Linked DNA regions of Homo sapiens: all the other regions are linked to region 3. The links come from fine-mapping of genetic effects on gene expression. A gene starts in region 3. Each other region holds a variant in brackets. All regions are shown on one strand. Distances are from middle to middle.

Evidence for each region.
Region 1: its variant is fine-mapped to the expression of PPL in lung (TOPMed, PIP above 0.99).
Region 2: its variant is fine-mapped to the expression of PPL in testis (GTEx, PIP 0.97).

Annotation. Positions count from the first base shown.
Region 1 is chr16:4,905,984-4,916,561 of GRCh38, reverse strand. PPL (periplakin) reads left to right here. Exons shown (of 22, transcript NM_002705.5): 2 at 5,613-5,712. LOC124903637 (a long non-coding RNA gene) reads right to left here. Exons shown (of 3, transcript XR_007064965.1): 2 at 4,031-4,111; 3 at 2,114-2,201. It overlaps LOC105371064 (a long non-coding RNA gene), which reads right to left and starts at 1,499. Exons shown (of 4, transcript XR_933028.3): 1 at 771-1,499. The variant G/A (reference allele first, on the strand shown) is at 4,431.
Region 2 is chr16:4,890,642-4,901,219 of GRCh38, reverse strand. PPL (periplakin) reads left to right here. Exons shown (of 22, transcript NM_002705.5): 5 at 131-256; 6 at 349-390; 7 at 1,836-1,997; 8 at 2,100-2,207; 9 at 3,450-3,545; 10 at 5,504-5,626; 11 at 5,813-5,959; 12 at 6,602-6,753; 13 at 7,582-7,679; 14 at 7,850-8,007; 15 at 9,007-9,185; 16 at 9,271-9,409; 17 at 10,299-10,492. It overlaps LOC124903637 (a long non-coding RNA gene), which reads right to left and starts at 5,504. Exons shown (of 3, transcript XR_007064965.1): 1 at 4,640-5,504. RefSeq lists an enhancer at 5,117-5,962. The variant C/T (reference allele first, on the strand shown) is at 5,236.
Region 3 is chr16:4,931,489-4,942,066 of GRCh38, reverse strand. It overlaps PPL (periplakin), which reads left to right and starts at 4,919. Exons shown (of 22, transcript NM_002705.5): 1 at 4,919-5,083. The coding sequence starts at 5,022. RefSeq lists a silencer at 4,577-4,976.

The sequences.
Region 1 (10,578 bases), 26 kb after region 3:
TGCAGTCCAGCCTGGGCAACAGAGTGAGACCCTGTCTCAAAAAATAATAAGGCTGGGCGCAATGGCTCACACCTGTAATCCCAGCACTTTGGGAGGCCAAGGCAAGTGCATCACCTGAGGTCAGGAGTTCGAGACCAGCCTGGCCAACATGGCAAAACCCCGTCTCTACTAAAAGTACAAAAGTTAGCCGGGTGTGGTGGCACACACCTGTAATCCTAGCTACTCGGGAGGCTGAGGTAGGAGAATCATTTGAGTCTGGGAAGCGGAGGCTGAGTGAGCCGAGATCATGCCAGTGCACTCCAGCCTGGGCAACAGGGTGAGACCCTGTCTCAAAAAAATAAATAAGTAATAAAAATAAAAAAAATACGTAGGGGTGGACTTGCTGGGTCTTATGGTGACTGCTTAACTTTTTGTGGAATTTCTAGACTGTTTTCCACAACTGTACACCATTTTGCATCCCCACTAGCAAGGCACGAGGGTTCCAATTTCTCCACATTTTTGCCAACACTTGTTATTGTCTTTTTTATTATAGCCATTGTAGTGGATGAAAAGTGGCATCCCGGTGTGGTTTTGGGCTCTTGGCATTTTAAATTAATCTGTGAAGTACCTACTGTGTGCTGGGAGCCCTGTAAGATCGTCACATGGAATTGTTAAGGGCCTAGAGTCCTGGCTCTGCCATCTAATTGCTGGGTGACTTTGGGAGAGTTATTTAACCTCTCTGATCCTCAGTTTCCACACCCATAAACGGGGATAATAATACAATTACCTACCATGCTAACACCCAGCTCTCAGGGTTGTCATGAAGATTGAGTCAGAAACAGTGAGGAGCCTGGCACGTAGAGAGTAAGTATTAGCTCATATTACGATGGTGGAGATTGTTATTGGTGTGATTTTCCTAGCATCCCCATGAGTAACTTCTAGCCCAGTCGATCACATGCCTCTGGAGTGAGATTGCTTGCGGGGAGAATCGCGGTTCACCAGCTGTGTGACCCTGAGCAAGTGCTTTGATGTCTCAGAGTCTTGGTTTCTTCATCCCCTTCTTCAAAGGGGCACACCAACCTCCCCGGGGACTTAGGGCAAGGATGATATTGAGCTGGTGCCTGTGAATATGTCTGAGGTCTGGCAAAGCCCACAGCAAGTGGCAAATGCCCAGGATGCCTTTGTGGTCATCGCCAGAGGACAGATGGAGAAGCGGAGGCTGTACGAGGGTAGGGCACTTGCCTGAGGCTGTCTAAGCAGCAAGCAGCCCAGTGGGCCTTGGGCCTGGCCTGTCTGCTCATAGCTTCCTGCTACCGCTCACAGCTTTGTCCCATCAGGAGTCCAAGGTCCCTGAGGCAGTGGTCATTGCCCCACAACTCCCATGTCCTCTGGGGGGCTTCGGCTGGAACAACAGGCCCAGCCAGGATAGAGTCCAGAAGGTGGCTTTTCTTGCATCTGCCACAATCCATGAAAGGGCTGGTTTGGGAGCTGGCCCTGTGCCTGAGGTGGGACTGGGCCCAAGAGAGACAAAGGCCCCCACTTGAGCCACAGTACAGACCCTAACGATGCACTGCAGAGTCAGGGGTTAAATATTTGGGGTGAGACTCACCGCCTCTAGGTGCAGCTGGCCTGGCAGATGGTCAGTGACTGGGGTGGGAGTGTGGGGGCCCAGAAACTCACATTCTCCATGTGGCCTGCCCAACCAGGAAGTGGGGGGTTAGGGAATGAGGGAGGAGTCGGGTGGACCCCTGACCTGGCTGTTCTAGAAGCCCACCTTATCCCTTCTTACCGAGATCCTCCATCCAAAGCCCCCCACTGCTAAGCCTTCCTGGCCACCCCGCCAAACACTGGCTTTCTCCACTGCAGGACTTGTCAGTGCCTTTGCTGGCTCATGAACATATCAAGGATGGGGTTTTCCTAAGTGCCTTGACCAAGGAAGAATAAGACTTGTAAGAGTTGGGTTCCTGGGACCCCACTTTGGGACAGGCTGCCCCCAGTTGACCTTGCAGAAGGTATGGCTTGGGTCCTGTTCCCTCAAGATCCCCCAGCTCCGGTGTATCCAGGTCTGCCACAAAGCTGGCCCTTAAGCAAGGTGTGGAACCTAGACGGATGGATCCCCAGCATGTTGGCTGCTGCCATTTCTGCCCCCAATGCCCCCAACATCAACAGCACCTGCATTGCTGGTCCATGACTCCGGTAGGTGTCCAGGTACCCTGGGGAACCTGCAAAAATAGTAATAATAATACAGCTTCCTGGGCCCAGCTCTGGAGACCTGGGTTCAGCAGGTCTGGGTTAGTGGCCGGGAATCTGAATTTTTCATGCTAGGCCCCAGAACCTTGATCTGGGGAGCATCACTCGAAAGGGCTGGTGGTCCCCTCTGCCTTGACGGTCAAGAACCCCGCCCTGGCCCACCCCACGGGACGTGCCAGGACCTGCCTCTCTCTATGGCGTGTCCTCATTGGAGCCTTCTGCACAGGAACACCAAATTCTTCCTTTTGCTTTAGCACCCAGCCGACACCACCTCCTCCAGGAAGCCTTCAGTGACCACCGCTGTCCCCACCCAGCCAGTCCAGAGGTTCCCCTGGGCATCCCCAGCCTCCAGGCCTGCCTCAGTCTCGTGACTGTTTCTATAAATACTGATTTCCTCCTGGTCTGTGGGGTGGATCAGGGAGGGAGAGGCTTGTCTTTGTGAGGTGCAGGGCCCGCACACAGCAGGTGCTTAATGAGTGTGAGTAGAAGGCAACTTCTGCGTGCCTAGCCACTCAGGCCCCACTGTGGGTCTTCAGTGGAGACAGGGGAGCTATCATCGCTGGCTAACTGGGTGACAATGGCCAAGTTGGTTTCCCTTTCTTTCTTTGTTTAAAGAAAACAACAGAAGGAGGCTGGGCATGGTGGCTCACACCTGTAATCCCAGCTACTCAAAAGGCTGAGGCAGCCGAATCACTTGACCCCAAGAAGTGGAGGTTGCAGCGAGCCAAGATGATACCACTGCACTTCCAGCCTGGGTGACAGAGTGAGACTCGGTCTCAAAACCACAGAGGCAGAGCTGGGTGATCTCTAAGGCTCCTTGACAACTAAAATCACAAACCTTTGTTCAGACTTATTCTGTGCCCGGCTCTATGCACAGTCCTTTGGTAGTGTAACCTCACTTCCATTCATAACCCCTGCCACCCTGGCCCCGGGAAAGGACTGTTACTCTAGTCCATCGGATTGGGAGACAGAGGCACAGATAGGCAAGGGAGCTGGGCCAAGTCACACAGCCACTAAGTGGCTGATGGGAGCCAAGATCTGAACCCACAGCTAACCCCAGGGCCAAAGTCTTAACTAACTCCCATTAGAGCATTTTCCAGAGTGGTCTGTCTGTGGTTCTGGGGGACGGGGGGCAGTAGACAAATGTGACAGGAGGGGACACAGAGACAGTGAGGGAGAGGGCCAGTCTGCTTTCAAGACTTTTTTTTCTTTTCTTGTTTTTTTTTTTCGAGATGGAGTCTCGCTCTGTTACCCAGGCTGGAGTGCAGTGGTGCAATCTCAGCTCACTGCCACCTCCACCTCCCAGGTTCAAGCAGTTCTCCTGCCTCAGCCTCCCGAGTAGCTGGGACTACAGGCGCATGCCACCACACCTAGCTAATTTTTGTATTTTTAGTAGAGATGGGGTTTCACCATGTTGGCCAGGCTGGTCTCAAACTCCTGATCTCAGGTGATTCGCCCGCCTTGGCCTCCCAAAGTGCTGGGATTACAGGTATGAGCCACCACACCGGGCCTCAAGTCTCTTTCAGGCGCTCTGAGAAGATCAGGAGAAAGGCTGGGCCTGACGCCACCACGGCTGTCACACCTCCTGACTTGTAACAGCGGGCAGCCCAGTGTCACCACGGAACCCAGTGCCACTGCGTTCCCATGAAATTTATTTTGGCAGCTAATTCACTCATGGTGAGGGCTTCTGATTTCTGATTAAAATGGGGAGAGAAGTTACCTTTGTAAACACATTTAACTCTAAAATAAAACGAGTAGGTTGAAAGAAAAATATCAGGTAATTAAAAATAAGACTGCTCACACAAAAGCTTGTTCCCGAACGTTCATAGCAGCGTGATTCTCACGATGGCCCAAAGGTGGAAACGGCCCAGATGGTTGTCAGCTGTTGAATGAATAAGCAAAATGTGAAGTAGCCACGTGATGGAATATTATTCAGCCATAAAAAGAATGAAGTTCTAATAGATGCTGCAATATGCACAAAGCTTGAAAACATTATGCTGAGAGAAGGCAGACGCAAAAGGCCACGTGTTGTGTGATTCTATTTATATGAAATGTCCAGAATAGGCAAATCCATAGAGAGAAAAAGTAAATTCCTGGTTGCCAGGGGCTGGAGCGGGTGGGGAATAGGGAGTGACAGCTTGTGGGTGTGGAGCTTTGGGGTGATAAAAATGTCTGGAATGAGATAGTGGTGATGGTTGCAC[G/A]ATTCTGAATGTGTAGTACTAAAAGCCAGTGACTGTGTATTTTAAACAGGTGAATTTTACGGTATGTGAGTTATCTCCCAATTTTTCAAATATGGTGCGTTTTGCCAACATGGCAAAATAGAAGCATTAGAAGCTGGGTGTGCTGGTGGTGCCAGTGGTCCCAGCTACTCAGGAGGTGGAGGTAGGAGGATTGCTTGAGCTCAGGAGTTCGAGGCTATAGTGAACTATGATCACGCCACTGCACTCCAGTCTGGGTGACAGAGTGAGACCCTATCTCTCACAAAAAAATATGTAGTCGGGGCCTGGTGGCTGACATCTGTAATCCCAGCACTTTGGGAGTCCAAGGTGGACGAATTGCTTGAGCTCAGGAGTTCGAGACCAGCCTGGGTGACATGGTGAAACCCCTTCTCTACCAAAAGAAATGTAAAAGTTATGCAGGAGTGGTGGCATGTGCCTGTAGTCCCAGCTACTTGGGAGGCTGGGCTAGGAGGATTGCTTGAGCCTGGGAGATAGAGGCTGCAGTGAGCCATGACTGTGCCGCTACACCCCAGCCTGGGCAAGAGTGTGAGACTCCGTCTCAATAAAATGAATGAATGAATGAATGAATGAACGAATGAATGAATAAAAATAAAAAATAGAAGCATTAGAGAGAATGATCAAAGTGGAGGCTGGGCGGGCGCGGTGGCTCACGCCTGTAATCCCAGCACTTTGGGAGGCCAAGATAGGTGGATCACTTGAGGTCAGGAGTTCAAGACCAGCCTGGCCAACATGGTGGAACCCCATCTCCACTAAAAATACAAAAATTAGCCAGGCTTGGTGGTGCATGCTTGTAATCTCAGCTACTGGGGAGGCTGAGGCATGAGAATCATTTGAACCCAGGAAGTGGAGGTTGCAGTAAGCTGAGATCACGCCACTGCACTTTAGCCTGGGTGACAGAGCAAGACTCCATCTCAAAAAAAAAAAAAAAAAAAAAAAGGAGGCTGACCGCCTGCCAGGCGCTGCCTTGTCTCTGTGGCTTTAGTGATGTTGCCCTATGGGAACAGCCCAACTACCTCAAAGGCTCTGTGGGCAGCTCCTGCTCAGAGCGTGGGGCCGGGGCCAGCCAGAGGATGGGGTGCTGGTGGGGACATAGCCCCCACCCACCAGGCACCCCGCCCATCTCCCCTCGGCTTCTGCCCGCAGCATCTCTAACAAGGAGCTCTCGGAGCTGATCGAGCAGCTGCAGAAGAATGCCGACCAGGTGGAGAAGAACATCGTGGACACAGAGGCCAAGATGCAGAGTGTGAGTGCCCCCACTCCCACTCCCACCTGGGTGCCCCGTGCTGCCAGCCCTGTTCAGGACCAGGATCTGTTTGGAATCGGTGATTCTCACCCAGGGGTGATTGTGGCCCCGAGGGAACATGCAGAGACATTTTGGTTGTCACTGCTTGGAAGGAAGGTCCTCCTGGCGTCCAGTTGGGGAGGGGAGACAGGGATGCTGCTGAACACCCTACCGTGCACTGTAGGGCAGGGGTGCCAAGGTCAGGAAGCCCTGCTCTGTGAGAGGAACCTGGCCATTGTCGTTAATACTAGTACCTCCCGGATACTAAGTTCCTCCCTCTTCCTGGGCCCTGTGGAAAGCGTCTCCTGCCTGGAGGAGTGCCATGGGGTCAGGCTCTATGGAAACAGCCCAGCCTTGTCCTTGCTGGGTGACCTTGGACAAGTGAGCCATCCCACCTCCCCATGAACGAGATTCTCTCTAAGCAGGCAGGAGTGATGGTTCCCATTTGGCGGGGTGGTTGTAAAGATTAAATGAGATTATGCAGGTATAGGACAGGGCTATTATCGTCAATATCATTCTCACTGCTCATCCTACTGCTGCCAGCACTCAGGGTGCAGGTCTTTCTCCACCTTTTTTGGAGAAGAGAGATAAAATAGCTGGGCAAATCACTTTCCCCTATCTGTGCCTCAGTTTCCCTTTCTGTAACATGGGGATAACAACTGCCCAGTGGACTCAACGGCATGAAGCCTCTGTACCCTGAGGGACTCACGAGCCGCTGGAATGGTCACCTTCTCTTTAAACCTTCCACCAGCGCCAGCCCGGTGCGATTGGGTTGATGCCTGTTTTGTACCCTGGAGCAACTGAGGTTTAGAAGGGGCTGGGATGATGAGTCAGTGACAGAGATGGTGCCAGCATCGGCCTGCAGGTGGAGTTACCAGATTTAGCAAATAAAATATGAGATGCCCAGTTACATTTGAATTTCAGAACACAAATCATGTTTTAGTAGCAGGAAAGCCCATGTGTTATTAGGGAAAGGCTTATGCTAAAACATTATTTATTGTTTATCTGAAAATCAAGTGTAAGTGGTGATCTGTATTTCATCTGGCATCCCTATGCAGGGGCGACTAAGAAGTGGGACCAGGCCAGGTGCGTAATGGCTCACACGGCCGTAATCCCAGTACTTTGGGAGGCCGAGGTGGGTAGATCACTTGAGGTCGGGAGTTTGAGACCAGACTGGCCAATGTGGTGAAACCTCATCTCTACTAAAAATACAACAATTAGCTGGGCGTGGTGGTGCACACCTATAATCCCAGCTACTCAGGAGGCTGAGGCAGGAGAATCGCTTGAACCCGGGAGGCGGAGGTTGCAGTGAGCCAAGATCGTGCCACTGCGCTCCAGCCTGGGCAACAGAGTAAGACTGTCTCAAAAAAAAAAAAAAAAAAAAAAGGTGGGACCAGAGGAGTGGGAGGCTGAGGGTGGGGAGGTCAGGAGGGAGGTCAAGGTCTACCCGGCCAAGCTGCTGTCCCCAGGCCCAGCCATAGGTATCCAACCCCCTTGGCTGCTCCTGATGGCCCAGTTGCCCACCCTCTGAAGGCCTGTCCACAGCAGCCAAGAGACCCAAGCGGGTAGGTGGGCTGGGGTGGGCACAGTCCACGGGGGTGTAGGGGGCAGATAAGTGGAGACTCTGTTCTCTGCCACCAGCTATCCCCTGCAGGGGCCCCAGGAGTGGGCCTTGCCCTGGCCTCCTGCCTGGGGCCCCCGCCTCCATGCCCCCCTGGGCCTCCACCTCCTGCCTCCCTGGCCTCTGCCTGGCCACCCCACACCTGTTCCCTCCCATCAGCTCCCCTTGTCATTTGCAGTTACATCCTCTGCCATCTGAGGCCCCCTGTGGTGGTGGATTTCTTTCCTTCTTAAATGGAAAACATCTTTTGGGGGTGTGTCTCTTTTTTCCTCATAACAAAAATAATATGTGTTCATCACACACATTTCACGATGGATAAACAAGCATAACAAAGTGAATTAAAATCATGAGCCGGGTGCGGTGGCTCGCGCCTGTAATCTCAGCACTTTGGGAGGCCTAGGCAGGCAGATCACCTGAGCCCAGGAGTTTCAGACAAGCCTGAGCAACATGGTGAAACCTCGTCTCTACAAAAAATATGAAAAATTTGCCAGGTGTGGTGGTGTGTGTGCCTGTAATCCCAGCTCCTTGGGAGGCTGAGGTGGGAGGCTCGCTTAAGCCCGGAAGGTTGAGGCTGCAGTGAGCAGAGATGACACCACTGCACTCCAGCCTGGGCAGCAGAGGGACACCCTGCCTCAATCAATCAATCAATCAATAAAGTCAGTCATGTAGAATTCCACCACCAGAGGTATCTACTGACTATTAACATATTGGTGTATATCTGTTTGACCTTTGTGTATGTGTGTGAGAGAGAGAGAGAGAGAGAGAGAAAGAAGGAAGAGGGTTTAACCTTCTCATTTTATTTCCCTGAAGTATTGACTCAAAATAGGTAATTTTGAACCATTTTTATTTTATTTTTTTGCAGAGACAGAGGTCCTTGCTATGTTGTCCAGGCTGGTCTTGAACTCCTGGCCTCAAGCCATCCTCCTGCCTCAGCTTCCCAAAGTGCTGGGATTTACAGGCATGAGCCACTGTGTGCTTGGCCTGAACAATTTTTTCTTTCTTTCTTTCTTTTTTTTTTTTTTTTTTTGGAGACAGTCTCTCACTCTGTTGTCCAGGCTGGAGTGCAGTGGTGCTATCTCGGCTCACTGCAACCTCCACCTCCCGGGTTCAAGTGATTCTTCTGCCTCAGCCTCCCAAGTAGCTGGGACCACAGGCAGGCACCACCACGCCCAGCTAATTTATTTATTTATTTATTTTCAGTAGAGATGGGGTTTCATCACATTGGCCAGGCTGGTCTCAAACTCCTGACCTTGTGATCTGCCCACCTCGGCCTCCCAAAGTGCTGGGATTACAGGTGTGAGCCACTGCACCCGGCCTATTTTTTTAACTTCAACTGAACCCACTTGAAAAAAGAAGCTAGGCTTTGAAGACTACATGGATCACACAATCTTTTTCTTATGTTCTTTTTGCTAAAGATACTACTATTTATTTCATTTCCCAGTTCTGTTGAATTTTCCATTTTTTTTAATTGAGGGGAGATTCACATAACATAAAATTAACCATGTAATGTGTACAAGTCAGTGGCATTTCATACATTCACAATGTTACACAACCATCTCCTCGATCTAGTTCCCAAACATTTCCCTTACCCCAGAGCCAAACCCCACACCCTTAACAGTTACTCCCCACCTCCCCTTTCCCCCTGGCAGCAACTAATCTGCTTTCTCTCTGTGGATTTATTTATTCTGGATATTTCACATAAACAGAATCATACACTGCATCACACATTTATTCAAATGCTAAACATGCAGAAAACCGTACAGCGAACACCCATATCCCACCACCTGATCCTACAAGGAACGTCTGCTGAATTGGCTTTATCATGTATCTGTCCGTGTGTGTGTGTGTGTGTGTGTGTGTGTGTGTGTGTGTGTGTGTGTGAGATTAGATATATCAGTCCCTATAATTTTTTATTTTTATTTTTTATTGAGACAGGGTCTTGCTCTGTCACCCAGGCTGGAGTGCAGTGGCGCAATCACGACTCACTGAAGCCTCAACCTCCTGGGCTCAAGCAATCCTCCCACCTCAACCTCCCAAGTAGCTGGGACTACAGGCGCATGCTACTATGCCTGGCTCATTTTTGTATTTTTTTTTTTTTTTTTTTTTTTTTAGAGATAGGGTCTCACTATATTGCCCGGGCTGGTCTCCAACTCCTGAGCTCAAGCAATCCTCCCGCCTGGGCCTCGCAGAGTGCTGGGATTATAGGCGTGAGCCACTGCACCTGGCCCCTGTGACTTTAAAAAACTTTTTTATCAAGGTATAACTTATATAAACTCTAGAGAAGTGTCTACATTCGCAGACTTCACCTGGGTGAATTTTTGCATCAATAGGTACCCAGATAACCACTGTCTGTGGCAAGATGGGTAACTGTCTAGAAAGCTCCCGGGCCATCTCCCTAGTTGATATCCCTCAGGGGTCAACCCTATGCTGATCTCTCTCACCATCGATCAGTTCTGCCCGACTTTGAACTTTCGAACACTAGCCTCCCTCAGCTAGATGTTCTCTTTCTCTCTCAGCCAGTGTTTTGAGAGAACTTGCATTCCCACCGGGCACCTTCACGAATTAGGCAATGATTAATGGACTTCCTCCTTTTGCAAAATTAATCTTTGATCTGCAGCTCAGGGAAGCTGGTGATAATGGAGTGAATAAAATTCTACTCCAAGCAGGCCGGGCGCGGTGGCTCACGCCTGTAATCCCAGAACTTTGGGAGGCCGAGGCGGGTGGATCACGAGGTCAGGAGATCGAGACCATCCTGGCTAACACGGTGAAACCCCGTCTCTACTAAAAATACAAAAAAATTATCCAGGCATGGTGGTGGGCGCCTGCAGTCCCAGTTACTTGGGAGGCTGAGGCAGGATAATGGTGTGAATCCGGGAGGCAGAGCTTGCAGTGAGCCGAGATCGTGCCACTGCACTCCAGCCTGGGCAACAGAGTGAGACTCCATCTCAAAAATAAAAAAACAAAAAAAATTTAAAAATTCCACTCCAAGTCAAGAAGCTGATGTTTTGTTGTAATTAACGGGCCAGCCTACCCCAGGGTTGGGGGATGCCTGGTTCCATTGGCTTTTTGGATTGGTTGGTTTGAGGTAGGGTCTCGCTCTGTCGCCAAGGCTGGAGTGCAGTGGTGCAATCTTAGCTCATTGCAGCCTTGAACTCCTGGACTCAAATGATTCTCCTGCCCCAGCGTCCTGAGTAGCTAGGACTATA
Region 2 (10,578 bases), 41 kb after region 3:
CCTTGTGGCTCTGCAGGGCCCCGTGAAAAAGAGAGCACCATCATGCCCACCCCCGAGGCTCCTGGGGTGGCCACACGTCCCCAGCCCTCAGCCCACCCTCTCCTTATTGCTTCTCTGCCCTCCTGGCCAGGACAAGCTGAACAACCAGAGCTTTGGGACTGACCTGCCGCTGGTGGACCACCAAGTGGAGGAGCATAACATCTTCCACAATGAGGTCAAGGCCATCGGGCCCCACCTGGCCAAGGACGGGGACAAGGTGGGGCGTGTGCTGGTGTGGTGGGGACCCAGGGATGGAGGGGGCCGCGCCTGCTTCCTGGCCCTGACCCATGCCCTCGGCTCTGTCCTCAGGAGCAGAACAGCGAACTCCGGGCCAAGTACCAGAAACTGCTGGTGAGGAGCTCCCTGGGGGAAAGGCCTCATGGGGAGAGGAGAGGATGGGAAGCTTGGAGTCGGGGGGACAAGGATGTATTGTTTTAAAAATGACATAGGCAGCTGGGCATGGTGGCTCACGCCTAGCACTTTGGGAGGCAGAGGCAGGAGGATCACTTGAGCCCACGAGTTTGAGACCAACCTGGGCAACATAGTGAGACTCCAGCTCTACAAAACATTTAAAAATTAGCTGGGCTTGGTGGCATGCCTGTGGTCCCAGCTACTTGGGAGGCTGAAGTGGGAGGATCGCTTGAGCCCAGGAGGTGGAGGCTGCAATGAGCTGTGATCGTGCCACTCCACTCCAGCCTGGGAAACAGAGCAAAACCCTGCCTTTAAAAAAAAAAAAAAAAAAAAAAGGCGTGCAGTAAACGTTTCAATCAGGAGAGGGGTTGAGGCGGGAAGAGAGGTGCCCCAGCCTTTTCCTGAGCGGCTGCAAGGTCTGCCCTGGTTGTTCAGGGAAAACCCTAACAGGCCCCAGGGGTACAGCCTGTCCTGCTCATTTCTTTATTATCTGCTGTGTGCCAAGTATGATGCCACTTGCTTTCTATACAAAAGCTTTCCATTTTCCTTCCCAAACCTTTAAAGAATGCATTCTTTTAAAAATTGCATAAGTGTTATGCAAACGCTTCCTTGTTGCCAATGTTTCAGACAGAGAATACAGAGGCAGCATTGTGTCGCTATAAGGAGCCATGCTTCCTCTGCTCCTTAGTGTTAGTGGTGACACCTTGAGCGAGTTACTTAGCCTCCGGGAGCCTCAGTTTCCTCATCTGAGAAATGGAGCTCCTACATGTTCCTGTCTCATAGGGTCGCTTTGAGGATGAAATGAGTCAATGTTGCAGAAGTTCATCAGGCGTGGAGGGCCCCACGTACCAAAATGCAAACATCCCTCCTTTCCCTTGCACACCCGCTTCTCAGACGTACAGTGGTGCTTTCCTTCCAGCCCTCTATAAGACGATCATGATACAGATAAAAGTAGAAGCTATAGTTACTGATATTTGTTGAGCACCAACTATATGCCAGTCTCTGTACGCTGTGAGGTCAGGACTGTCATCTTCCCCATTTACAGATGGGCGAACTAAGCCTTCACAAAAATGTCAGTTCCGTAAGGGTTTTGTGTGTTTCGTTTGCTGTATCCCCAGTGTCTGGAGCCATGTCCAGCATGTAGTAGATGCTCAGTAAACATTTACTGAATGAATGAATGAATGAATGAATGAGTTTCAGGGGTTCAGGTGACTTGTCTAAGGGGGACTGGCCTGGACGTGGCTAAGCTGGGCTTGTCCTCAGGCCACCCATAGCTGGGCTTGTCCTCAGGCCAGCCATAGCTGGGCCCTGCAGGAGGTAGGGAAGGAAGCGAGCAGTGGCAGCGGGCTGAGGACGCAGCCCTTTCCTTGCCCCGGCCCCTTCAGGCAGCATCACAGGCCCGGCAGCAGCACCTGAGTTCGCTGCAGGACTACATGCAGCGCTGCACCAATGAGCTGTACTGGCTGGACCAGCAGGCCAAGGGCCGCATGCAGTACGACTGGAGTGACCGCAACCTCGACTACCCCAGCCGCCGGCGCCAGTATGAGGTGGGTTCTGGGGGCCTGGGGCATCAGGGAGGAGGCAGCCCTGGAAGGAGCACGGGACCGCCAGGCTGGGCACTGAGGCCCCTCCACTGCCCCCCACTGCAGAATTTCATCAACCGGAACCTGGAGGCCAAAGAGGAGAGAATCAACAAACTGCACAGCGAGGGCGACCAGCTGCTGGCGGCCGAGCACCCCGGGAGGAACTCCATTGAGGTTCATGCACCCCGAGACCAGACACCTCCCCCAGGGTGGCTTCTGGTTGGCCGCTGCCTGTGGGCCGCCTGGAGCTCGGGCAGACCCCGGAGCTGGGGGTCCTGCAAGCTGCATCTTGTGTCTGTCTGTCTCTTTCTTGCTGTGTCTGACTCTGCCTCCTCCATTTATCCTGATCCGTTGACACTTCTGCCCTCAGCCCCTGGACTTCTGAAGCCCCTGTGGGGTCTGTATTAGTTTCCTAGAGTTGCTGCAACAAGTTAAAACAAACTTAGTGGCTTTAAACAACAGAAATTCATTCTCTCAGAGGTCTGTGGGCTGTAAGTCTGAAATCAAGGTGTCTTAGGGCCTCATTCCCTCTGGAAGCTCCAGGACATGTGCCTTCCTTGCTCTTCCGGCTTCTGGGGGTTGCCAACAGCCCTTGGCTTGTGGCTGCATCATTCCAGTCCCTTCCTCCGTCTTCACATGGCCTTCTCTCCCCATGTCTCTCTGTATCCTCTCTTCTTATAAGGATATCAGTCAGTGGATTTAGGGCTCACCCTAATTTCAGGATCCTTAACTAATGACATCTGCAAAGATCTTATTCCCAAATAAGGTCGCATTCTTCCCAACCCCCACAATGCCACCAACCCCGCCTGAGATGGAGTTTCGCTGTTGTTGCCCAGGCTGGAGTGCGATGGTGTAATCTTGGCTCACTGCAACCTCCACCTCCCGGGTTCAAGCAATTCTCCTGCCTCAGCCTCCCAAGTAGCTGGGACTACAGGCGCACACCATCATGCCCAGCTAATTTTTGTATTTTTAGTAGAGACAGGGTCTCATCATGTGGGCCAGGCTAGTCTCAAACTCCTGACCTCAGGTGATCCACCCGCCTCGGCCTCCCAAAGTGCTGCGATTACAGGTGTGAGCCACCATGCCTGGCCAGGGTCATGGATTTGGTGGGACACTGTTCGGTCCATGACAGTGCCTTTGTACAGATTTGCCGAAGGCACCACAGCCCCCACTTGCCCTTTGTGCACTGCACAGCCTGGGCATCCGTATGTGGCATCCCTGTTTGGCTCCTTGACGTGACCCCTCTCTCCTCCTCCCACTCCTGAGCAGAAGCTGGCTACCCCTGTGGTAGCCACACCCAGACAGATGCCAGATGCCTCCCTCCCCCGCCATGCCCCAGCCCAATATCCCAGCAGTCCCTCCCTTGGTGTCTGCAGTACCTGCCCAGTGGTGACCGGCCCCTTCTCTTCCTGGCAGGCGCACATGGAGGCTGTGCACGCAGACTGGAAGGAGTACCTGAACCTGCTCATCTGCGAGGAGAGCCACCTCAAGTACATGGAGGACTACCACCAGGTACTTACCTTTCCTGGGAGTCCCCCCAGCACCGGGGGTGCTACTCTCTGAGAGCGCTCAGTGCCTACCTGGCTCATGTGTGGCCTCGTGCTCCTTGGTCCAGGAGCCTTGCGGGGCAGCCATCCCAGGCCCCCAGCACCCATGCTTCTGATGGCGTGTGCAGACATGTCCCAAGCTTGCCGGCCCCTGTCCAACTTCCCTGGGGACCAGGGCCAGAGTCTGATTCCCCAGGTCACATGGGGCCCAGGGTGAGTGTGTAGGGTTTTAATTTTGGTAAAATCTATAATATACATGCAGATACATAAAACAAAATTTGCCTTTTTTTTTTTTTTTTTTTTTTTTGAGAGAGTCTTGCCCTGTCACCCAGGCTGGAGTGCAGTCGTGCCATCTCGGCTCACTACAACCTCCACCTCCTGGGTTCAAGTGATTCTCCTGCCTCAGCCTCCTGAACAGCTGGGATTACAAGTGCCCACCACCACACCCAGCTAATTTTTGTATTTTCAGTAAAGATGGGGTTTCGCCATGTTGGTCAGGCTGGTCTCGAACTCCTGACCTCAGGTGATCCTCCCGCCTCGGCCTCCTAAAGTGTTGGGATTACAGGTGTGAGCCACCACACCCGGCCAGTTTGCATTTTTAAGTGTACAATTCAGTGGCATTCATTGCATTCGCAATGTTATGCAACCATCACCACCATCTACTTGCAAAACTTTCCATCACCCCAAACAGAAACCCTATACCCTGGCTGGGCACGGTAGCTCATGTCTGTAATTCCAGCACTCTGGGAAGCCGAGGCGACTGGATCACCTGAGGTCAGGAGTTCAAGACCAGCCTGGCCAACATGATGAAACCCCATCTCTACTAAAATACAAAAGTTAGCCAGGTGTGGTGGCCCATATCTGTAGTCCCAGATGGGAGGCTGAGGCAGGAGAACTGCTTGAACCCAGGAGGCAGAGGTTGCAGTGAGCTGAGATCGCGCCATTGCACTCCAGCCTGGGCGACAGAGTGAGTCTCCGCCTCAAAAAAAAAAAAAAAAAACAACCCCGTACTCATTAGGCAGTAAGTTTTCCATTCCCACTCCCCCAGCCCCAGGTCACCTTTGGTCTTCTTGCTGTCTCTATGGACTTGCCTGTTCCAGAAGTGTCACACCTAGAACGAATATGAAGAATCAGTGGGATCATGCAATCTCTGCCCTTTTGTGTCTGGCTTCTCTCACTGAGCATCATGTTTTCCGGGTTCATCCGTGTTGTAGCATTTTCAGTGCTTCACCCCTTTTTATGGCTGAATCATATCCTATTGTATGGCTAGACCACTGTGTTTATCCACTCATCTGTGGCTGGACACTTGTCTGTTTCCAGAGGAATGAGAGTTCTTAAGAAGCTGCGGGTAATTCTTAGGATTGAGGTGTCTGGGGAAAGCTGGATGTGGGCGACGCCGTGTCACTCCTCATTCCCTGTCTGAGCCGCACAGTGGGGGCTTCAGGTCCTGTTTATGGCTGCAGCCCAGGTGCTCAGCCCAGGGGATAGCTGACAGTGAACCAAGAGTTGATAGACTGAAGAATGGGCAAGAGAATTTTCGAGAACAAAAAGGGGAGGCTATTATCAAAACCTAGAAAGAAGCTATAGTATTAAGTCTGGATGTTCCTAGTACAGAGAGAGGAACTGAATCAAAGACACCTCAAGACTTACTGATA[C/T]ATCCAAGAAAACATGTCACAGAGGTGGCATCTCATGGATGGGTGGGAAGGGACCTGGCTTTTCCCAGTGAGGCCCCTAAGGAGCCAGCTCAGGGAGGGTGGGGCTGTCTCCACGCAGAGGAGCCTCAGGCTCAGCACAGGGTCCCATGCTGGACTCCAGGTGAACCGGAGGCCCAGCCCCGCCTGAGGGATGAGCTTGAAGCCTCCGACAGAAGCCCAGGTGCTTCTAGTGGTTTCCTGGCTGTAACAGAGCCACCTTCTCCCCTAGTTTCACGAAGACGTGAAGGACGCTCAGGAGCTGCTGCGCAAGGTGGACTCGGACCTGAACCAGAAGTATGGCCCTGACTTCAAGGACCGGTACCAGATTGAGCTGCTGCTGCGGGAGCTGGATGTGAGCGATGGCCCAGGACCCCTGCTGGCCCGGGGGGCGGGGGACCCCTCTACACCATGCCTGCCCTCAGCCCTGTACAGGCCCCTCCACAGCACCCCACCTGCTGAATCCAGCCCCTGCTCTGCGTCCTCCCACCAGGGGGAAGGCTGTTGGTCTCACCTGGGCCCCTGACCCCGTTCTCTCCAGGACCAGGAGAAGGTGCTGGACAAGTATGAGGACGTGGTGCAGGGGCTGCAGAAGCGAGGCCAGCAGGTGGTGCCCCTCAAGTACCGCCGGGAGACTCCGCTCAAGCCCATCCCCGTGGAGGCACTCTGTGACTTTGAGGGGGAGCAGGTGCGTGGGGCCAGCTCCTCTGTTCACATCACTACAAAGTTTTTGGGGTAACATGGTTGGATCCCGGGCCTCAGGCGCCGTTCTCAGGAGCCTGTGCCTGTCTCCGTGGTTGGTGTCACTCTGCCAACCCTTCCCCTGGTGCAGGCCAACTGGCACCCCTATGCCGCCCCCACCTCGGCTGCCCTGGCCTTGTGTTCCACCAGCTTAGCAACCCCAGTCCCTCCTCAGAAGTCCCAGGCCAGGTTCTCATTGGCTCACTGTGAGTCACGTGTCCATCCTACACCAATCACTGTGGCCAGGGAATGCCAGGGTCCACCCTATACCAATGACTGTGGCTGGCGAATGCCAGTCATTGGCCAGGTCCAAGTCACATGTCCATCTGGAGCTTGGGAATGGAGAAGGAGAGACCACAGGGACTGGGAATTGGGAGGGAAGGTTCCCCAAAGGGAAATGGAGGTGGGTTGCTGGGCCGGCAGCCTCAACACATGTGCTTCTCCTGCATGCCCCTCCCCACTCTACGGGGAGGGTCCAAGTGATGAGCCGGGGCTCCCCAGGTCCAAGAGTCGGGGGCTGAGATGGCAACCGGGCTCCCAGGCCCTCAGGCCCTGCCGGGATCCTGACTGTCCAGCCTGCCCCCGCCAGGGCCTGATCTCGCGGGGCTACAGCTACACCCTGCAGAAGAACAACGGGGAGAGCTGGGAGCTCATGGACAGCGCTGGGAACAAGCTGATTGCTCCGGCCGTGTGTTTTGTGATCCCCCCCACAGACCCTGAGGCCCTGGCTCTGGCTGACAGGTACAAGGGCAAAGGCGGGAGTCTGCATGGACCAGTCCCACCCCCAGGGCTTCTCAGGCCCCATTCATAGCCCCGGGGATTTGGACTCAGCCTGTGGGGAGCGCGGGGTCGCTGACACTCTCCATCTGCACCCCCTTGGAAGTTCATGCAGGAGAGGGGCAGATTGTGGGCCAGCTGACTTGCTAAACATGAATGTCTAGCTCTGGGCTTCGTCCTGGCCCCCTCACGAGTTTCTAAGCAGTTTCTAAGGGCCCCTGACTCCCGCACGCACTGCTCCCTGTACTTGCAGACCCCAGCCCCTTGGCTGGAGGACTCAGCTGGGATAAGGGCTGCCTCCTCTTTGCTCCCAGGCACCTTCTTCCACTGCACGCACCGCTTTTTATTAAGTGACTAGCGTATGCGTCAGTCTCATTGGGCCTGGGCTCCTTGAATTTCCTCTCTCCAGGGCCTAGTTAAGTACCTGGTACAAAGTAGGTGCCCAGGAACTCCTTGCTGAATGAGTGGATCATTCAAGGAATGCCTTCATTTATTAAGTATTTATTGAGCACCTACTGTGTATGCTCCCTCAGAAGTAACATCTTGGTGGTGATTATTGGACAGACAATTTTAGGTAGTGAGACTTCCTACGAAAGAGGAGGGAAGGAGGGAGAAGAGCTCTGAGCCCAGGAGCACAGAAAGGCCAGTGCCACAGTGAGCACTTGCTGTCCGCATCTAAGGAGCTGTCAGGCTCCTCTGGGGTGTCTGCCCAGCCAGAGTCCGCAGTCCCGCCTCTGTGGGTGCAGGGGGTGGTGGGCTGCCCAGGTTCCCAGCTCATTTCTGTCCTCACAGCCTGGGCAGCCAGTACCGGAGCGTGCGGCAGAAGGCAGCTGGGAGCAAACGCACGCTGCAGCAGCGGTATGAGGTGCTGAAGACCGAGAATCCCGGAGGTGGGTGCCAGGGCCACTCGCCTGAGGCTCTGGGGGTACCGGGGAGGAGGGGCTGGACCAGGGTCTGTGCTGTGGATGAGACGGCGGGGGGCTGGCTGCCTAGGTCCATCCCTGGGCCTCACACCCCTGGCCCGTTGTCACACCTGCCTGTGTCCTCCCTCCCTCCACAGATGCCTCTGACCTACAGGGGCGGCAGCTGCTGGCTGGCTTGGACAAGGTGGCCAGCGACCTGGACCGGCAGGAGAAGGCCATCACAGGGATCCTGCGGCCACCACTGGAGCAAGGCCGGGCTGTGCAGGACAGTGCCGAGCGGGCCAAGGACCTCAAGGTACCTGCGGGTCAGGAGCACAGGTGGGGCCGGGGGAGCCCTGCACTGGCCCCCTGGGGCCCCTATTTGAGGTCTTTTCCCCATGGAGTCTTGGGATATTCACTGCAGCTGTCTGTCAGGGACAGCCTGCTGCATGTAAAAGGGTCCCAAGTCATGGAGGTGGCAGGGCTGCTGTCATTACCTCCCCAGGAGAAAGAGCTGGCAGGACTTGCATTGTTCCTGCACGGCTTGTCGATCTGACGCCTGGCATGGCACATGGGCTGTGGAATTCCGCAGGACTGGGTCACCGGCTGGCTTGACTGCAAACACGTTAGCGTTTGTATTTATAAACTCCAGGCCTCAGTGTCTTCAGTAGGATGGGTTGGCCCTGCTCACAGGGCAGTGGCGAGGACAGGGTGAGCTGATGCCAGGGGGGACGTGGAGGGGCCACCTCCCCCCACCTCCTTTCCTATACAAAGTCTCCCACATCCTCAAGGCAGCCCTCTGAGGCAGTGAGTAGCACTCCAATTTTACAGAAGAGGATCTGGGATTGGAGAAGTGCCATAGCCCCTGATGGGGCCTCAGAGTGAGAGCCAAGTCAGGGCGAGAGGATGCCGGTCTCGGGTGTAGCCTGACCCCACAAGTCCCTTCCTAAGCTGCTGGGAGTCGTCACACCCCCACCCGTGACTGGGTGGAGTCGTAGTACTCACCTCCCGGGGTTGCCGCAAAGATTAAACAGAAGCGTCCGCGTGCAGTGCTGAGGACAGCACAGGCCCGGCAGCTGCCTGGGTGCTTCTGGTGTCACTAGTCCATTCCACCTCAGCGGTTCCCTGGGATGCTCGTGAAAAATACAGCCCTCAGGCTGGGGTCCAGATGCCGGGTCAGAGCCCCAGAATGTGCCAGGCCTCTCCAGCTGCTTCCACTGTGCCTGATGTGGGAATCTGTGCTCACCCTGGGCACATCCTCAGGGGAAGGGGCTGCCTGGCTGTGTCCAAAACTGAGGGGCCCTGGTTCCCACAGAACATCACCAACGAGCTACTGCGGATTGAACCTGAGAAGACGCGGAGCACGGCTGAGGGCGAAGCCTTCATCCAGGCCCTCCCAGGCAGTGGCACCACACCCCTGCTGAGGACCCGGGTGGAGGACACCAACCGGAAATACGAGCACCTCCTGCAGCTGCTGGACTTGGCCCAGGAGAAGTGGGTGGCAGACAGGCAGCATGGAGGTTGGGGTGGGGTCAGGGGGCCAGGTGGGCATCCCCCGACGCCTGATTGGTGCTCTCAGGGTTGATGTGGCCAACCGCCTGGAGAAGAGCCTGCAGCAGAGCTGGGAGTTGCTGGCCACACACGAGAACCATCTGAATCAGGATGACACAGTGCCTGAGAGCAGCCGTGTCCTGGACAGCAAGGGGCAGGAGCTGGCGGTGAGTCTAGGGCCCAAGTCCTGGGAGTCCTTCTCTGAGCAGGTGAGAGCATCTGGCACATCCACCCGCCCGTCTGGATAGATGAGGACACCAGCATCCAGTCTCCCCAGGTTTGGAATGCCCAAATTGGGAACTGCAAATGGAGGCCCACAGCACAAATCCAAGCTATTCACGGGATCTGTGTGACTTACGGGATTTCGGGTGCCAGCATTTTAAGATCAAATATCTGCAATAGCCAGTGTAGTGGCACATGCCTGTAACACCAGCCATTCAGGAGGCTGGGGCAGGATTGCTTGAGCCTTGGAGTTTAAGTCCAGCCGCCTGGACAACGTTGCAAGACCCTATCTCTTAAAAAAAAAAAAAAAAAAAAAAAAGCATAAAGCACATAACAATCCATGTTCCCAGTATCTCTTGCTGAGCAGAGCTGGCATCCTGGGCTGCAGCTCAGAGGGCAAGTCAGTGGGCAGAGGAGCAGCTGCCTTCTCGGCCTGCTTACCTCGCAGTTGCCACGGGCCCCCTTCCCACACTGCCTGAGCACAGGAAACATTCAAGTCTGTGACCTGAGGCCCCTTATTCACACTCCCATCTCACGACTTGCTTTTGCCACAGCCTCATGACCAGACAGTGGCAGGCTGTTCTCGCGCAGGGCACGAGCTGCCTGCTGCAGGGTTTTTAGAAGTTAGCTTTTCAGGGCTTTGTTCATTGTTAAAAAACAGAAGATGGCAGAAGTGACCCAGGTTTGGGATGTACAGAGCAAGGCTCCGGTCCTTCCTACCTGTGGCCTTGCCCACCCTCCTACAGTCAGTGGCCCAGGGGCTTCAGTGGGTGTCATCGCCTGGCTCTGGGAGCTCTGGCCGTAGCACCGCCGTCTCCTCCTCTGCCCCGCCAGGCCATGGCCTGTGAGTTACAGGCCCAGAAGTCCCTCCTGGGTGAGGTGGAGCAGAACTTGCAGGCGGCCAAGCAGTGCTCGAGCACACTGGCCAGCCGCTTCCAGGAGCACTGTCCGGACCTGGAGCGCCAGGAGGCCGAGGTGCACAAGCTGGGCCAGCGTTTCAACAACCTGCGCCAGCAGGTGGAACGCAGGTGAGGGTGCGGTGGGTGGTGGCCATTTTTGTTTTCTGAGAATGCGATCTAATTCCCTCTAAGCAATGCTTTAGCCGTGTCCCACA
Region 3 (10,578 bases):
TTAGCCGGGTGTGGTTTCATGCACCTGCGGTCCCAGCTACTTGGGAGGCAGAGGCAGGAGAATCACTTGACTCCAGGAGGTAGAGGTTGCAGTGAGGCGAGTTCGCGCCACTGCACTCTAGCCTGGGTGACAGAGCAAGACTCCATCCATCTCAAAAAAAAAAAAAAAAAAAATGGCCAGGCGCAGTGGCTCACGCCTGTAATCCCCACACTTTGGGAGGCCAAGGCGGTGGATCACTTGAGGTCAGGAGTTCAAAACCAGCCTGACCAACATGGTGAAACCCCATCTCTACTAAAAATACAAAATTAGCTGGGCGTGGTGGCACACACCTGTAATCCCAGCTACTTGGGGGGCTGAGGTAGGAGAATGGCTGGGAGGCGAAGGTTGCAGTGAGCCAAGATCGCGCCACTGCACTCCAGCCTGAGCAACGAGAGTGAAACTCCATCTCAAAAAGAAAAGAAATTCAAACTTCTTTCTTGTCCTTTTTGGGGAGATTCAGCAACGGTTTCTCATGTATCCTTCCAGAAGTTTTTTGTGCATAGACAAGCATGTTACACACCACACACTCTGTCTTTCCCTCTTTCTTTTGCACTTTGCATCTGGCACTCCACTCCATGTTAGTCTACATATGGTCTCCACATCTGCCCCTTTTCCAGCTGCAGGGTCTTCCTGGTGTAGGCAGCCCTGGTTACCGGACCATCCCCCTCCAAATAGGCAGCAGTTTCTTTACAGAGCTTCTCCATTAGCAACTGTGTTGCCAAAAGCATCCCAGGATGCACACTTAGTACAAGGTCAGCAACACTGCTGCAGTGACCATCCTCAAGGCATGCTGAGCCCGGAGTAAGAGCCCACCTGTGGGGAAAGGTATGGGGAACGAGAAAGGAGAGGGTGTCCAGGCATAGGCAGACCAGGGGGCGACAGCAAGGACGCACAAGTTCCCTGGGAACCCCTCTTGGGGTATGGGGAAGGGGTCTGTGTGCTGAGCCAGCTCCATGTTGAGTTCAGGCTTCTGCGGGTGCAAGGTGACTCCCCGCACACCTGTGTTCTGAAACCCCAGCTCCTCTCTAACACCTGCTCCCAATATCAGCTGGCTGGAGGAAGCATCCCTTCGGGGCCCTGAGATCTAGGCAAGGAAGTCACTTTTGGACGAGGGAGGGCATTGTCATGCCCTTACCTGCCAATGAGAAATGCCCACCTGGGGGCGGCACCCGAAACTGAGCCAGGCAGAGCCGAGTTGGGGAAGGACTGGGTTTGCTGGGGAGGTCTGTTCAGGGCTGTCTGCCTGAGCAGCTGGGAGGCTGCACACACTGAGGCCTCAGACCACCCAGGGAAGCTTGTCCAGATTTCAGATTCTTAGGCCCCTCCCTCTTCAGACCCCCCCAATCAGGATGTCAAGGGTCCCAGGGCCCCAGAATATGCCTTTTACAAACTCCTGTAGAGATTCTAAGGTGCAACAATGTTAGAACCACCGCCTCTCCCAGGGTCTTTCTCCCCCATATGTCCCCAGACCCCTTCAAGGAGTTCACAATTTGGCCGGCGCAGGGACTGACGCCTGCAATCCCAGCACTTTGGGAGGCTGACGCAGGTGGATTGCTTGAGCCTGTAGGAGTTCAAGACCACCCTGGGCAACATAGTAAGAGCCCATCTCTACAAAGAATTTTAAAAATTAGCCAGGCGGCCGGGTGCAGTGACTCACACCTGTAATCCCAGAACTTTGGGAGACCAAGGCAGGCAGGTCATCTGAGGTCAAGAGTTTGAGCCGTCTCTACTAAAAATACAAAATTTAGTTGGCCATGGTGGCACGTGCCTGTGATCTCAGCTACTCGGGAGGCTGAGGCAGGAGAATCCCTTGAACCAGGGAGTCGGAGGTTGCAGTGAGCCGAGATTGCACCACTGCACTCCAGCCCGGTGGTAGAGTGAGACTCCTTCTAAAAAAAATAAATTAAAGGCCGGGCGTGGTGGCTCACGCCTGTAATCCTAGCACTTTGGGAGGCCGAGGTGGGTGGATCACAAGTTCAGGAGATCAAGACCATCCTGGCTAACATGGTGAAACCCCGTCTCTCCTAAAAAATACAAAAAATTAGCCAGGCGTTGTGGCGGGCGCCTGTAGTCCCAGCTACTTGGGAGGCTGAGGCAGGATAATGGCATGAACCCAGGAAGCGGAGCTTGCAGTGAGCCGAGATCATGCCACTGCACTCCATCCTGGGCGACAGAGCAAGACTCTGTCTCAAAAAAAATTAAATAATTAATTAATTAATTAAAAAAATTTAAAAAGGCCAGGCACAGTGGCTCACAGCTGTAATCCCAGCACTTTGGGAGGCTGAGGCAGGCAGATCACAAGGTCAGGAGTTCAAGACCAGCTTGGCCAACATGGCAAAACTCTGTCTCTACTAAAAATACAAAAATTAGCAGGGCGTGGTGGCAGCAGGAGAGTTGCTTGAATCCAGGAGGCAGAGGTTGCAGTGAGCCGAGAGTGTGTCATTGCACTCCAGCCTGGGCGACAAGAGCCAGACTGTCAAAAAAAAAATAATAATTAATTAATTTAAAAAAAATTAGCCAGGCATGGTGGTGCACACCTGTGGTCCCAGCTACTTGAGAGGGAGGCTGAGAAGAGACAACGGCTTCCGTCTGGGAGGTCAAGGAAGGCTGCAGTGAGCCATGATCACGCCACTGCACTCCAGCCGGAGCAACACAGCAAGACCCTATCTCCAAAAAAAAAGAAAGAAAAAGAAAAGTTAACGTGTTTTTGTTTTTGTTTTTGTTTTTTGACGAAGTCTCACTCTGTCGCCCAGGCTGGAGTGCAGTGGCACGATCTCAGCTCACTGTGACCTCCCAGGCTGGAGTGCAGTGGCGTGATATGAGCTCACTGCAACCTCCCCTTCCCAGTTTCAAGAGATTCTCCTGCCTCAGCTTCCCAAGTAGCTGGGACTACAGGCAGGCGCCACCACGCCCAGCTAATTTTTTATTTTTAGGAGAGACGGGGTTTCACCATGTTGGTCAGGCTGGTCTTGAACTCCTGACCTCAGGTGATCCCCCTGCCTCGACCTCTCAAAGTACTGGGATTACAGGAGTGAGCCACCGCGCCCATCCAAGTTAACATTTTTAATATGTGTCCCCTGCCCCGGGACCTGAAAGCTCCCAAAGAGAAAGCCCCTTTTGTGTTGTTCTTTTCCCTTTTCTCATCCGTGTACAACAAGCAGAGCCAGGCACACTGAGGCTGTGAGAGTGATGGGAAACATGTGTTGAATGAGTAAATGACTCCACTGAGCAATACATCCTCCCCCAGAAAAATGCACATTTGGACACACACATTTTGAAAGCAACTTTAGGGCTGGGTGCAGTGGCTCACACCTGAAATCCCAGCACTTTGGGAGGCCAAGGTGGGAGGACTGCTTGAGCCCAGGAATTCAAGACCAGCTTGGGCAACACAGCGAGACCCCATCTCTACAAAAAACATATATAAATATAAAGGTTTTAAAAATTAGCCAGGCGTGGTGGTGGACACCTGTGGATCCAGCTACTCGGGAAGCTGAGGTGGGAGGATTGCTTGAGCCCCAAAAGTCAAGGCTGCAGTGAGCTATGATTGTGCCAATGCACTCCAGCCTGGGCAACTGAGTCTCAAAGAAGAAAGAAGAAAGAAAGCAAGAAAGCAAGAAAGGAAAGAGAGAGGAAGGAAAGAAGGAAGGCAGGCAGGCAGGCACAACTTTAGGAGGAATCACACCTCTATTTACGCCTAGTGGTCCATTATTGGAACGTGACGCCTGTGGGAGTTATCTCCTACTGCTCAAGGTCACTGCCAAGGTATGATTTATCAATTCAAAAAATTGCAACCTCAGGCATAAATGGGTTAAGCCCACCCATAGAAGCCCCATTAAGAATAAGGTTGGCTGGGCACGGTGGCTAATATCTGTAATCCCAGCACTTTGGGAGGCTGTAGGCCGGCAGATCACTTGAGCACAGGAGTTCAAGACCAGCCTGGGCAACATGGTGAAACTCTGCCTCTACAAAAATTTTTAAAAATTAGCCAGGTGTGGTGGTGTGTGCCATCCGGGCTTCAGGTCAGATTAGGTTTCTGTCTAAGGGCAGCCTCCTCCACTGGCACACAGTCTGGGCCAGGACATGCTGGCAGAATTGTGCAACGTCGTTGTTCTGAGCCGCAATCGAGCAGCTTTTATGACCAGCTATGAAGCGCTCTTCTAGTGCCAGGGCCTGGAGTTATTGAAGTTTCAAAGGAGTTTTTGTCCACCCGAGATGGCAAGCGGAGAGCAGATTCAGGCCAGGGCACTGCGCTCAGCGCTTTGCGTGCATTACCTGCAGGGACATCCCCACAGGCCTTTCGGATGGGGTGGTGGTTATCACCGTTTGACAAAGAAGTAAACTGTGGCTGGGAGCAGTAAAACACCTTGCCCAGGAGTGTCAGCCAACCTGGGGGTGGCAGGGCTTGAACTCAGGCCGGCGCCCTCGGCAGTTCAGCCCCCTTCCCTCAATTGCCACCATCTGAGTGCAATTCGCTAGCTACTAGGGCACATGAATCCGTGCGGGTCTCTGCCGCACCTGTCTTGCGGGGCCCAGCTGGGTGTCCGCCAAAGCACCAGGAGCGCCGAGTTCCGCGGTAGCGCAGAACCAGGTGAAGGCCTCGGCCAGAGGCGCGCCGGGCCCGAGGAGGGTGGGGCTGCGAGCGCTCGCCCCGGCGGCCTTTGCGCCCCAGTGCCTGCCCGGCCTCCGGAGTCCCCCGGCTGGGGGTGGGCGGCGTCCGGCCAAGACCCAGTGTCCCCACCCCCGCGTCCAAGCCCCGCCCGCGCGGTGGCCCCTCCTCGGGAAGGTAAGCACCACCTTCTCGGGGAGCGGCCCGCAGAGCCAGTGGCCGGCGGGCGCCCCGCCCCCAGCGAGTAGGGACCCGGAGCCACTGCCGCGCCGCAGTCCGGGCTCCCCGCGCCGCCGCTCGCTCACCTGCGCTCCCGCCCGCCCCTCGGTGCGCGCCCGGCCCGCCAGCCGCCGCCGCCCGCACCCCGAGCGCCACCATGAACTCGCTCTTCAGGAAGAGAAACAAAGGCAAATACAGCCCCACTGTGCAGACCCGGAGGTGAGGAGGCGCCCACAGCTCCGCTCCGGGACGCTCTTGCCCCTGTGGGCGCACAGGACCTGGAAGACCTCCCGGGCAGTGTAGGAATGGGGGGTACGGGGGTCCAGGAACCGGGAACTGAACCCGGAGTGCGGGACTCTCGGGAACGCGGGACCGAGGCCACCCTGAAGCTGGGAAGCGCCGCCAGGTGGGAAGGGACTGGCTGGGGTCCCCGAGGGGGAGCATAACACAGGGGACTCCGGGAGCCCAGGGAGCATTGCCTTGAGGGCCTAGGGCACGGGCAGCTGAGCTGGGGGTACAGGGCACCCCCGTGTCCCAGGGTCGCTCTTGCGCAGAGGGTCGCACAGGACCGGGAATAGTCACCTGGATGAGGGGGCGGAGTTTTTGGAGGACCGGGCACTCAAGGCGGGGTCGCTGCGGGCGACCCAGGAAGCTCCGTCCAGGGGGCGCCCTGAGGCAGGGAAACTGAGCTGGCGTCGGGGGGCGCTCTCCAGCGCCTCTGAGACCGCGCAAGTGTTCCTGGCGTCGGGGAGGCGAGGGATGGGTGTCCGGAGGGGGCGGGCCACCCGCCGCTGCACTTCCCGGCACCTGCCACCCTGCGCGCCAGAGCCGCGCCCGGAGGCCCTGGGGGGTGTGGGGTCGGGTCGAGGGGCACAGGGGGAGGCACCCCCTTACCTCCCCACCCTCTGGGTTCTGAGCGGAGGTTGGGCGGCTTCGGGGCCTCCTCTTCGAAGCTCGGTTTCGCAGGGGTGTGGCTCCCTGCCCCCACCCCAGCCCCGAAACTGGCGGCGTCTCTGAGCCGCGGGTTCCCAGGGCGGCCTGGGAGGGGAATGGCATGTCTTGATGTGTTTGCAGGGAGAAGCAGCCCACGTCCCTTTTGATAAGCCTAATGTGTTCACTTAATAACCGGTTTAGGGGAGCCTGGTGGAGATGCTGAGATTGACGGAGGGGGTGGGAATCCAGCCCCTGCCTTATATCCCCACTTCGGAAAATAGAGTGGGGGCTCTGGGCTAGCAAGGACCATTTTGCCAGCTTCTCGGACAAGAGGCTTCAGGCAGGTGAGGGGCCCGCACATTACATGGCTCTCCTGTCTGGGAGTTCTGCCCCCAAGCTGCTCTCACTGGGAGCCCCCACTGTGCCCTCAAGCAGCTCCTCACTTCTTCCCTAGGCAAGGAGAGGCCTCTGGGCCCAGGGCTCCCACTCAACCCCTGCAGTCCGGCCTAGGCCGACCAGTCGGACAGGTGCAGGCGGCGGGGCCCTAGCACGCTGGAGTGCGACACTCCATTCCGGGGCCTTCCAGCCCTTTCAGAAACCCCCCTGCCCTGTGATCCCACCCACCCGTATCTCCGTTTGGGCTCTTTCAAGCTCAGAGGCATTACCCGCCTTTAGAGATTTCCCCACCCCTCCCCTATCTTTCACAACCCCAGAGACTGGGCAGGGCCTGCACACCCCTCCTCCATGGCTGCGTCCAGCTGGCACTCAGACCCAACCAGAGGCCCGTCCAGTCCCTGCACTGTTCCCTGGGGCATTGCACAATTGGATGCTCCGTGCCAGCCGTGGAGAACCGTTCTGTCCTCTCCACCCCAGAGACTAGACCCATCCAGTCCTTCACACATGCAGACACCCACATACCAGTGGTGGGGCCAGGCCTCGCCCCGCCCTCTGCCTCCTCCCAGCCTCCCTCCTTCGTGCAGCTCTCCATCCTGAAGGCCCCAGCTTGGACCTAACAAAAGGTTCTAATGAACCCAGACAAGCTGGGAGGGGTGCGGGCTTTCCCAGAAGCATGAGGATGAAAGGCATCCCATCCTTTATAGCTGCAGGGACTGGGAGGGTCTGGGGTGGCAAAGATTTGGGGTCCTGCCACTCTCTGTATATCTGGCCCAAGGCAGCCACGGTCTGTCCTAGGCTGATAGCCATTGGTCCCAGATCTCCATTTAGACGTCTCTTTCTCCAGGAAGCCCTCCTGATTCTCTCCCCAGCCTGGGGTGCAAGACCATTCCTTTGAGCCTTGCCACCCCAGCACAGAATGAGCACAGCCACAGCCCTGAGCAGATGTCAGATGCCTCCCCGGGTGGTCTCCAAGCCCAGTGCATCCCTCTGCCCCCTCCCCTTAGTGGGGACTAGTTCGCAGACTGGATTGTGGGGTGGGGGTAGCCCTGTACCCCATCCTCTCAAACGCATCTCTTGAACATTGCCTGATGCCCAGCCAGCCCCATAGCAAGTGTCTTGGTGGGGGGGTGGAGGGGACAGACTTGCGGCTCTAGGCTGTGGTCGCTGGTCACAGGGAGTGGATCCCCAAGTTATTCCTTCACTCTGAGTTTTCCAGGGGCCCGCTCCATTGTCTGGGGGAGGACAAAATTGCTGGTGAGATTCAGCATGGGGGGCAGTAGGAGCTCCAGCACTGAGAGCAGAATGCCTCACTGTTGATCCTGGCATCTCCACCCTGGAGCCTCTCGAAGCCTTGTTTTCCCTTTCTGCACAGCACGGGTGGTAATACTGAGTGTCTCATGCATAGGGCTGCTGGGAGGAGCAGTGCTGTAGCACACAGGAGGTGCCCGGATGAGGGTAGCAGCCCTTTCCGAGCCCAGGGGACCCAGGAGCCCCAAGTGGTGACTTTCATACCCAAGGTAGTCAGGCCTTTGGACTACAAAGTGTGGATTAGTGAACGGAACACCCCACCGAGAAAGCCACCCCTTCCAGTTTGTCTGCCTTTTAGCAGCTGAAGCTGGGGAGGGCCGGGACAGGGTGTGAACCCCGTTGCTCCCGTTGCCCGGGTTCCTAATGACAGGTGTGGGAGTTGATGTTCACACCTGAGCTAATGACAGAGTCAGGCCAGATGGTGCAGGTGACCGAGGACAGCCTCCAGCCTAGTAGAGAGGCCCTGGAGGAGACCCGCTGCCACCCTCCTGGCTGTGCGACCTCAGAGGAGCTGCTTGGCTTCTCTGAGCCTGTTTTCTCACCTGTGGGATGGGAATAAGCACGGTGCCTGCCTGGCGATGTTGGCTCAGGATTAAATGAAATAATGCAGGGGAAAGGTTGTGAATGATAAGCGGCCGCAGGTAATAGCATCTGTGACGATTACAGTTATTAAGCAAATGCGGGCAAGCTAGCTGTGGTGTACCCAGGGTTAAACTTGATATCATGGTGGACAGGCTGTGCACTGCACAATTCCATAGGCACTGTTGCTGGGTTTTAGCACGTGGTCGTGGAGGAGACGTGGACAACCTCCCTGCACTTGAGTCGCTGGCAGTCACATCACAGAGATAAGATGGAGTTAAGCTTCAGTACATGTATGGTTACATGAGCGTCGGACTGATGGGGCCAGGCAGGAGCAATGGAGCATAGAGCCGGACAGATGAGGTCTCCACCCTGGCCACTCACATACTTTGTGACAGGCCTCAAGTGAGAGTTGTCACAGTCAGAGCACAGATGCTGGGAGGTGAGGGAGGACTTCACAGAGGAGGCATCTGACCTGTCACGGGGTGGGATGGAGTGGCCAAGACCCAGCTCTGCAGTCAGGCTCAATTCTGCCTCTGCTTGAAAAGAAACATAGCATCCCTGAGCCCCAGCGCTTCTGAATTTGTTGAATGGGATTAATCTTGCCCCTCCACCCAGACCTGGGTCCCAGTAAACACCCAGCAGCCTGGCCTTGCCTAGACGGGTCTTGCAACACTGGGGCCGCCCTGATGGAGCGCTCCTGCATGGGAGGCAGGACCCCAGGCTTTGAGGGGAGAGCTGGCAAAAGGGAAGCATGCTCTACTGGGAGGCACCTGGGGTACCCTGAGCCTCTTAGTGGTTAAGAACACAGTGTTTTATTAGCTGGGCATGGGGGTGGGTGCCTGTAGTCCCAGCTACTCAGGAGGCTGAAGCAGGAGAATCCCTTGAACCTGGGAGGCAGAGGTTGCAGTGAGCTGAGATTGTGCTACTGCACTCCAGCCTGGGTAAAAGAGTGAGACTCTGTCTCAAAAAGAAAAAAAAAAAAGCAAGAACACAGTGTTTGATGCTAGCTGGGCATGAGTTCAGGCCGCAGCTCTGGGTCTCTTAAGCTGTTTGATCTTGGGCAAGTCACTTAATGTCTCCGAGCCTCAGTTTCTTCATCTATGAGGTGGGGTGACAACAGCAACCCCCAGTTGGTGAGGCTGCTGGGTAGATCAAATGAGGGGATGCACATGATGGGTCCAGCCCATGACCTGGTTCAGAGCGAGTGCCCGGCAAATCATAGCAGCCAATACTAGGAAGCACACACTGCTATTAAGAGTCATGACGGGCTGGGCGCGGTAGCTCACGCCTGTAATCCCAGCACTCTGAGAGGGTAAGGCGGACGGATCACTTGAGGTCAGGAGTTCAAGACCAGCCTGGCCAACATGGTGAAATCCCATCTCTACAAAAATAAATATTAAAAATTAGCTGGGTGTGGTGGCGGAAACCTGTAATCCCAGCCAGATACTGGGGAGGCTGAGGCAGGAGAATCACTTGAACCTGGGAGGCAGAGATTGCAGTGAGCCGAGATCACACCACTGCACTCCAGCCTGGGAGACAGAGCGAGACTCCGTCTCAAAAAAAAAAAAAAAAGATTCATGACTGAGCCAAGCCCAGAGCTGACCAGGGAGCTGACTCAAGCAGACACGCACATGCACCCATCGATCAGTGTTGGTAGGAACGCCTGATCGATATGGGAGGGGACCCATGTGGGTAACAGCTTAGAGAGAGCCGCCCCGCCATTTCTCAGGCACATACTGTGAGCCCAGCAAGGCCATGGATGTTACATCTCATTCTGACAGCGGGCCTGCCATGCAGGTGGAAGTGTCCTGTTTCACAGAGGGCTCACATTCACCTTGAGCTCACAGCTCACAAATGGCTGATGCTGGAAGTCCAGGGGGGCCTGGGGAAGCAAATGAGGCCTCCCCACTCGTACCTGGATCTGGCAGCAACTGTGCCTGGGGACTGCTCCAGGCCAAATGGTAGAGTCATTGGTGTTTGTGCTCACTGCCTCTACCCCCAGCAACCCCCTCTACCTCTCTTCTCTCTAGCTTTGCCCCTCCATCCCTTGCCCAGTTCTCTTGGAAGAAGGAATGAGACTGGATAAATTCGATTCAGGACAGAGCTGAGCTTACCTGGAGGAACAGCTGCTAATGGTAGCATTTCAGGCACTGTCGGGCGGATCATGTTGGGAAAGGGTATTTTGGGGGAGAGACTCAGCTCCGTCCACACCCTTTAAGCAATACCCTAAGGGTGTGGTTGGGGGAGGCCCTGGAAGTAGGGGACCTGGGGGAGAAGCTGCTTTAGAGAGCTTCCAAAGCTCCTCGTCTGGGGAAGAGAACCCTGGCTTCCCAGCGTGCAGCTGCTCTCTGCTCCCGGCAGGTCTGTGCCGGTGTTACCGGCACCACCTTGCATCCTCCCAGCCTGCCTGCCCCGGCCTGTCTTGGGAGCGAATGGGGAAACGGCCTCTGGTCTTTGTTCTCCCGGCTTCTGATGGGTTGCTGTGCTGCAGCCTC